Linked DNA regions of Homo sapiens: region 2 is linked to region 1. Evidence: fine-mapped expression QTL. A gene starts in region 1. The other region holds a variant in brackets. All regions are shown on one strand. Distances are from middle to middle.

What was found. PIP is the estimated chance that this variant, and not a neighbour inherited with it, causes the effect. A credible set is the group of variants that fine-mapping cannot tell apart.
Region 2: its variant is the best candidate, but not a certain one, in a credible set for the expression of DEF6 in lung (TOPMed, PIP 0.77).

Annotation. Positions count from the first base shown.
Region 1 is chr6:35,295,360-35,299,359 of GRCh38, forward strand. It overlaps DEF6 (DEF6 guanine nucleotide exchange factor), which reads left to right and starts at 2,459. Exons shown (of 11, transcript NM_022047.4): 1 at 2,459-2,593. The coding sequence starts at 2,498. ZNF76 (zinc finger protein 76) reads left to right here. Exons shown (of 14, transcript NM_003427.5): 14 at 1-626. RefSeq lists a silencer at 796-960.
Region 2 is chr6:35,184,256-35,188,255 of GRCh38, forward strand. No RefSeq gene overlaps it. Among named protein-coding and RNA genes, the nearest start is that of SCUBE3, 28 kb to the right of the region's middle. RefSeq lists silencers at 301-682, 1,077-1,371. The variant G/T (reference allele first, on the strand shown) is at 2,283.

The DNA of each region.
Region 1 (4,000 bases):
CTCTGGGGTGAGAAGACAGCAAGAAAACTGCCTAACTGAAGGGAATGGGGGCCCTGCTCAAGAAGGGGGCCAGGCAGCTGGAATCAGGGGAGTGCATCATCCTCGGGAGCTGACAACAGCCAGGCTACACCAGGGCACCCGCCTCTCAAAATCAGCTGGGCGCCCACTCTCCTCCTAAAGAACACCCTTCTGGCCCTCAGTCTGTTCCCCTTCTCAGGTAGAGATTGGGGCTGCTATGGGGACTGGCCCTGTAGGGTTGAGCCACAGACAGCTCTTCAGCCCAGTAGCAGTGGAGCAGGCCCTGTCCTGCCCTCCCAGCAATAACCACCTCCCTGGAGGCCAGCTGAGATGCCTGGCTACTTGGCACCAGGGACTTCCTGACACCACAGTCAATTAATTCCTCAGGGGCCTGTGGCTGAAGAAAAGGTGCCCAGCCCCCACCACTCCTCAGCTGCCCCCCAACCTCTCTATGGCAGAGAGGCAGGGAGTGGCCCTGTACATAGACTGCTGGGGATTGGGTTTGATTTGTTTTGTTTTTTTTAATTCCATTTTGATAATTTTTTTCCTGCTCTGGGTGGTGGTGGCACATGGATGAATGAGTATTTAATAAAAGTTCCAAATTTCCACCTGGGTCCCTCCATCCTTTCAGCTCTAGGCCCGGGTGGCAGGGTTGGTCAAATCAGGCTATCAGCCCTGTCTCCCTGGCACAAACCCCACTCAGCCTTGGTGCCAGAGTGGTGGGGCTGGCCTGCCAGGGACACAGGTGGGAAGGAAGCCCAGTATAAGATAAAGCCCTGAGGAGCTGCTGGTGGCTTCTTGCCCACAGCTGAGCAGGTGGGCTCCAGGGTAGCCAAACAGGACCAGGGTGACCGCTGCTTCCAGGCTCTGGCTGAATCTCAGGCCTCATGTGATTGAGCTGGGGGAACTCTTTTCCTGCCTTTTCTTGTGAAACGTAGTCAGAGCCCCTCCAACCCAGCCACCCCCAAATCACACAGTCAGCTTCTCCAAGAGGGCAAAGCCCCAGGTTAGAGTGAGGCTGGGGGACACCTTTGCCAAGGTTACTGAGATTCAAGGAGCAGAGTCTGATGCCTCTGGAGCTGAAGTCTTGGCTCTATTACCCAGCTCTGGGGGTGCCCACCTAGGTGCCTAGGACTGTGCTGTGGGATTTCAAAGCCACAATCAGACCCCACTGAAAAGTGAGTTGGTGAGACCAGATCAGCTCCAGGGGGAAGAAGGGATACAGGGGAAGGCACTTGATGGGAAGAAGCTCTGGGTTTGACTCTGCCTACACAGGAACATTGCAGGGATTGGTGGTGCCTCTTTTCCTCTCTCTGCTGTGATGGATATGCCCCAACCCCTTCCTGCCTCCTAGGATTGGAACCCCCTCCTCTGATCCAGGCATCCTCTCCCAGGATGCCTAGAAAGCTCCCATTTACTCTTGCCACCAGCTCCTTGGGAAGAGAGGGGCGGGGGCGTGCTTCCAGGCAGGAGGTATTCCCAGCACCTTACTTGGAGGGATTTTTATTTGGCTTAGGGGGTAGGGGGAGGTGTCTTAGAATTGGCCTGAGCAGATGTCTTCAACATCTGTGACCACCATTCCTGGTGTGGGCGTGTCCCAGTCCTTTTGGACACTGGATCTGAAGAAAGGAAGCACTGACATGGAGGGCCCTGAATCCCAAGCCTGCTGCTGCTGGGACCCTTAAAGTTGAGGTGCACCACAAGGCTCACCCCCATGTGTTTCAGGAAGTTTCCAGTGTCTTCAGGGCTACTGGGGCTAGAGTGGGCAGTGCTCTGAGTACCGTTTAGAGCCAGTGCTGAGGGGATAGGGAGCCAGCAAGTCAAGTGCCACATCCTGACCTGGAGAGGTGCCCTGGCCCATTTCCTTCTCCAGCTTTGTGATGTTGCCTTTGTTTCCTTCCACTTGGATGGAGTCCCACCACCATGGTAATGTTAAGTAGCACCAAAAGCTCTACCCAGAGCCTACTATGTGCTTTACGTCCATTCTCAGACATTCTTACAACACGGAGGCATTTTTCCTGCTTTACAAATGAGGAAACTGCTCAAGGAGGTTAAGTAACTTACCCAAGGCCTCCTATGTTGAACTAGGACTGGACCTTTACTCTGTCTGACCCCAATATCAGGATGAGCTTGCTTTTTCCCTCAGCAAGCTGCGTCTGGGAGCCCTGGAAGGCTCCAGAAGCCTCCGGGTCTGAGGAGGCTTCTAAAAGGGCCTCACATGCCCCGGGAGCCACGTGGATACAGAACGAGGGTTCCCGCTCTCGGAGAGTTGGTCCCCAGTTCCCATGCAGGGAGTGGAGCCTCTGAGCACTGCCAGAACAACAGGCAGGGTTCTCGACAGCACAGAGCCTCACGCAATGTGCAGGCAGGTGGTGCTCTCGCTCCACCACGGCACCTCTGCGGTCTCTGCAGCCGTTTGCATTTCCTGAAACCGGATCTTAGTGTCAGAGCCGCCCCCAGCCGGGCGGGCGCCTCAGCCATGGCCCTGCGCAAGGAACTGCTCAAGTCCATCTGGTACGCCTTTACCGCGCTGGACGTGGAGAAGAGTGGCAAAGTCTCCAAGTCCCAGCTCAAGGTGAGGGGCACCCGGGACCCGGGGGAGGACGGCAGATGCACCACACCAGCCCCTGCCGCCTGGGAGCCAGGTGTGGACACTGTGCCACTCCAGGGGCACCCAGCCATCCAGCGTCCCGGGCCTGGGGTCGGGGGGCTGGTCCTGGGTAACTGGGCCAACGTAGCCTGGTAGATGCCGCTGCCCACCCTCCAGAGACCTAGTGAAGTGTGTGCAGAAACCTTGCGCAGAACTGGGCCCCACAACTGGAGGCCAGGAGGTTCTGAGGGCCATTATGGGGTTCTGAGGGCCAGGAGCCAGGCCACATCCCAGACTCTGTGTGATGAGCACACACACCTCCACAGAGTCATGCTTGGGCACGCAGTGTGCTCTTTCTTGCTGCTTCCTCCTGACTTTCAAGAGAAACAGTTAGCCAGTGCTTGGCAGTCATTTCCTCTGGAGCTGAGAGAGGCATAAAGGGGCCGCCCCCAGTCCCAAACCTGTCTGGCCTGTCTAACCCTGCCCGCCAGGTGGGACAGAGCTGCGGAGTGGGTGAGGACTGAGGACCCTATTATACTGCTACGCAGCTCACCCCCCTATCCACCACACATATCAGGTTGGGAAACTTACCTTAGGCCTTGAGACCTCAGGTAGGGAAGGGGGAGAATCTAAGCCCAGGAAAATCCCAATCAATGATTGTCCTGAAGTCAATCATCTGGCCTAGACAATTTCTGGGAGGCCAAGGAGTTTTTCTCTCTCTTCCTCTAGTCCTCCAGTAGTGCTGCCTTCCCTACCCTAGTTAGTGGGGAGGAAGCAAGGCCCTCAGCCACTAGAATCAGCGAACACTGGGGGAAAGGAGCAAGGTAGGCCTCAGCTCTCTAGGACCTGCCATAGGGGTGCCTTCGTTCACTCTGCAAGTACTTGAGTGCCCCTCGTGAGGCTCTGTGCCTGGCATGTGGCTAGGCACTAAACTGGTGTCTCCCTGCCCCATCCTCCAAAGGAGACGTGTGGTCTCAAGGAAACCTCCATTCTTAATGACCGAGGTAGAGGGTGCTGGATACCTGAGAGATGAATGGGACAGAACAGTTATTGTGCCCCACCACCGTTCCAACCCCCTACTTTACTGAACTTGGATGTGAGGAACTTGAATATCCCAAACTGGTCCTATGTTAAATTCCTTACCTGGATTTGTGAGCATCTAATAGATGATTTCACTCCCCCAGGAAGGAGAGCCCACTACTATCTTTTGTCACCTAGGGAGAACCTCCTAACAGGCAGATTCTTCCTTACATCCTATTTAAATCTCTTGTATTGCAGATCATGTCATTTGGTTGGGTCCTCAGTATAAATGGAAAAAAGTCGATCATCCAAAATCCATTTCTGCAAACTCTGTGTCCCACCCCTACCTCCCACCCTGTCCCTTTAATATCT
Region 2 (4,000 bases), 110 kb before region 1:
GTTAGCTTGAATGTCAGTCCACATTGCATGGGTCTGGGTGAAACTGGGATGATTTAAGTTTCCTGTGGACCTAGTGATCAGATTCACAGAAACTCAGGCTTCACAACTTTGGCACTACTCATATTTTGGGCTGGATAATTTTTTGTTGTGGGTGGGGCTGTCCTGTGCTTCAGAGGATGTTTCGTGGTACCCCTATTCTCCACCCACTAGATGTCAATAGCAGACAGACAGACAGACAGACACACACACACACACACACACACACACACACACACACACCAGTCAAAATGATTAAAAATGTGTCTTCCCTGAGGCTGTCCTTGAAATGCCCAGCCTGGACACAGGGAAGACCAGGGAATGCTGAACCCACCAGGTGCTTTCCCCATATGTAGGAGCTGCCATGTCTGCCCTCAAAGGTCCAACAGTCTAAGTGTCCTCAGGCTGAACACCCTGGACTTGTCATTGACTAATCGTTGATTCTTATTTCTCCAGCCAGTCAGCCACCACGACCTGTTGATTTTCTGCATTTAGAACCTCCTGCACCTACCTGTCTTTTTCTCTGCATCATTCTCAGCATGGCACATAACCGGGGGCTTGGCAAGTGTGGGCACGATGCAGAGATGTTGGGAACTATTGTCAGGGATGCCCAGCTGGGCCAGGAGACACCACCAGGGGCCTTCCCTGGGGGTGGTAACAGTTTTCTTTTTTTTTAATCAGTTAGGACTCTTGTTTACCCTTTGTACCCAGCGCTAGCCCAGTGCCTGACACATAGTAAGCACTCAAAAATAATCTGGGGGTTTGATTAATCAATTGATTAATTAACTTGATACACACACACACATGCATGCATAGAGATGGCCTCTCTTTTTGCCGTCCATTCACATACACATTACCTTTCATTACAGAGACACCAGGTTACAAAGAAAACCCTTAAGAGTTTGCTGTTGACTTGAGCCGTGTCACTTGTAAGAAGGACAAAATATGTATGTGGTCAGTTCGAATCCCAGGCCTGAAACTGGAAATAAACTAACCCCTTGTTGAAATCGCACAGGAAACCTGAAGGGAGGTGGGGGAGACGGGTGGCAGGAAAAATGCCTGAGATCTTACACAACTTGTGCAAACAGAATGACAGGGCTAGGCAGCCCTGGGAGTCCAGGAATTAATAGCCCTGCCGAGGCTCCGGGGCTCTGGAGATGGAGCTATTTAAAGTCAAGAAATGTCATTTCCACCCACAGAGCCTGCCCCAGTTGCATTATCTGGAGCCTCTTCAGCCCCGGTGTTCTGGCAGCCTCCTGGCCTGACCTCCCAGTGGCGGGACCACGGGGCTCAAGGCCAACCTGTCATCACTGCTCTGTTGGGAGATTGTGGGGGGGTGGGGGGGGCTGACCTTAGCCTCTCCCAGTTCCTCCTCTTCCTCTTCTCTGCTCAGGCCCAGGACAAGCTGAGTGGACACTCAAGGCCCAGCTCACCCCTCTGCAAAGGCTACTGAGAGTACTAAGGTTGCTGCCCACATACAGGGGCCAGCCAGCCTGGCCAGCAGGGTAGGTCTGGGGTAGTGGATGGGGAGAGATGGGGTGTGGAGACATAGACCCTTGCCCACCAGAATCATACTCTTGTCCTGCTATATGACCTCAGGCCATTTGCTTAACCTCTCTGGACCCTCATTTCTTTACCTGGACTGGGAAATGAGAGTCTTCCTCTCCTTGCCCTATTTCTGGGGAAGGCCACAGGAGATCAGAGAAGGGATGTCTTTTGAACCTTTAGGAAGAAAAGCACCATAGAAATCCAGGTATTACCTGCAGCTCCTCCTCCCCTCCCTTCCAGGCAAGGTAATCCAGGAATGCTTCCTCCGGAGGCAAGAAGGCAGGAAGCTGGCATTTGAAGTGTCAGTGGGCTGTAGACTGTGTGACAGAGCCATCCAGCCCCATGCTCCCAGGAGCTGAGGTTCACATTCTTGCCAGGCACCTAAGGCAAGAACTCCCTCACATCCTGTCTGCTCTGATCTTACATATCTGTTCTGGCTGATGTTGCTGCAGTTTTGGGGAGGTGGGGGACTTAGAAGCCCAAACAATGTGCCAAACCAAGTTTTGCCCTGCAGGTGTCTAATGCCTGGGGATTGCTGGGCTTTTTTCCTGAAGCTGAGGAGAAAGCACAGTGGTGCTAAATGAGTTTCCAAGAGAGGTGTAATGAAATACCAGGGACACCCCAGCCCAAAGTCTTCCTGAACTCATTGCTGCTGCCACCCAAGGGGTAAAAGGGAGCTAGGAAATGTCTTTTTTTTT[G/T]TCTTTAGGAAACAGCAATGGAAATGCAGCCTTCTACTCTCTTAAGCCCCCTTCTCTTGTCTTATCTTAGAACTTGCGTGAAAGCTATGGATATTTTCCTCATTTAATTTTTTAATTTAATTATTCTAGACACACTAAAAGGTATGTATCAGAATAGTCTAGATTATGCTGCAGTAAAAACCCCAATATCTCAGTGGCTTAACACACACTTCTGCTTCTGCTACTTACTGCTTCTCACTTCTGCTACATGCCCTTTGTGGATGAGCAGGGGACTCTGACCATTGAAATCACTTAGGGACCCAGGCTGGTGGAACAGCCACCATCTGAAGCACTGTCAGAAGCAAAAGAGATGCCGGGCACAGTGGCTCATGCCTGTAATCCCAGCACTTTGGGAAGCCAAGGCAGGAGGATCACTTGAGGCCAAGTTCAAGACCAGCTTAGGCAACATAGCAGGACCCTGTCTCTAAAAAAATTTTTTTTAATTAGCCGGGTGTGGTGGTGTGCACCTGTAGTCTCGGCTACTCAGGAGGCTGAGGCAAGAGGATCACTTGAGCCCAGGACTTGGAGGCTGCAGTGAGCTGTAATTGTGCCACTGCACTCCAGTCTGGTGACAGGGTAAGACCCTGTCTCAAAAAAAAAAAAGAAAGGAATCTAGAGGGTCTCAAAAAGGCAGTTAATGCTCTAGCTCACAAATCATTGACCAGAACTAGTCACAGGGCCTCTCCCAACCACAGAAAACCTGAAATTACTATCCTACCAGGCGCTTGGAAGGGGAAGGACCCAGAAATGCTTGGTGGACAACAGTAATGATGACCGCAGAATAAAGAATTATATCACAGACACCGTGTACCTACCAACCTAGGAAATAACACTTTGCCAATACCAGGGAAGCCCTCTGTGTACCTGATGCAATCCCATCTCTCTGCTCTCCCCACAGAGGTGACCATTCTCCTGAATGTGATATTTGCCATTCCCTGTGTTTCTCTGTTTTACTATCTATTTCTCCATATTTACGATATGTAATAGTGTCTTGCATGTATTTAAAGACCATATAAGTGGTATCATACTGTATATATTCATCTGCAACTTTCTTTTCTGATCTACTGTGTGTTTCTGAGAGCCACCCACATTGATGAGTGAAGCTGTGATTGGTTCTGTGCTGTATACAGTCCCTTGTGTGACTACCGTAATGTCCAGTCTCCATGTCAGCTGCTTCCAGCTTTTCATGATTACATACAGCACTGCCATGAACATTCTTATGCACCTACAAAACAGAGCTTCTTCAGAGTAAAGACTTAGGAGGGCATCTTCCTATTGATGACATATTGCCAAATAGCTCTCTAAAATGGTTTTACCAAGTCATTCCACATCCTCACCATCACTTGGTTATGTTTGATGAGTGGGACATTCCCCGAAGGTTTTAATAAAGTTGAACTCTTTTTTCCTTTTGATACGGGGTCTCACTCTGTCACCCAGACTGGAGTGCAGTGGTGCAATCACAGCTCACTACAACATCTGCCCCCAGGCTCAAGTGATCCTCCCACCTCAACCTCCCAAGTAACTAGGACTACAGATGTGCACTACCAGGCTCTGCTAGTTTTTTTTGTATTTTTTGTAGAAACAGGGTTTCATCATGTTGCCCAGACTGATCTTGAACTCCTGGTCTCAAGCGATCCTCCCACCTCAGCCTCCCAAAGTGCTAGGATTACTGGCGTGAG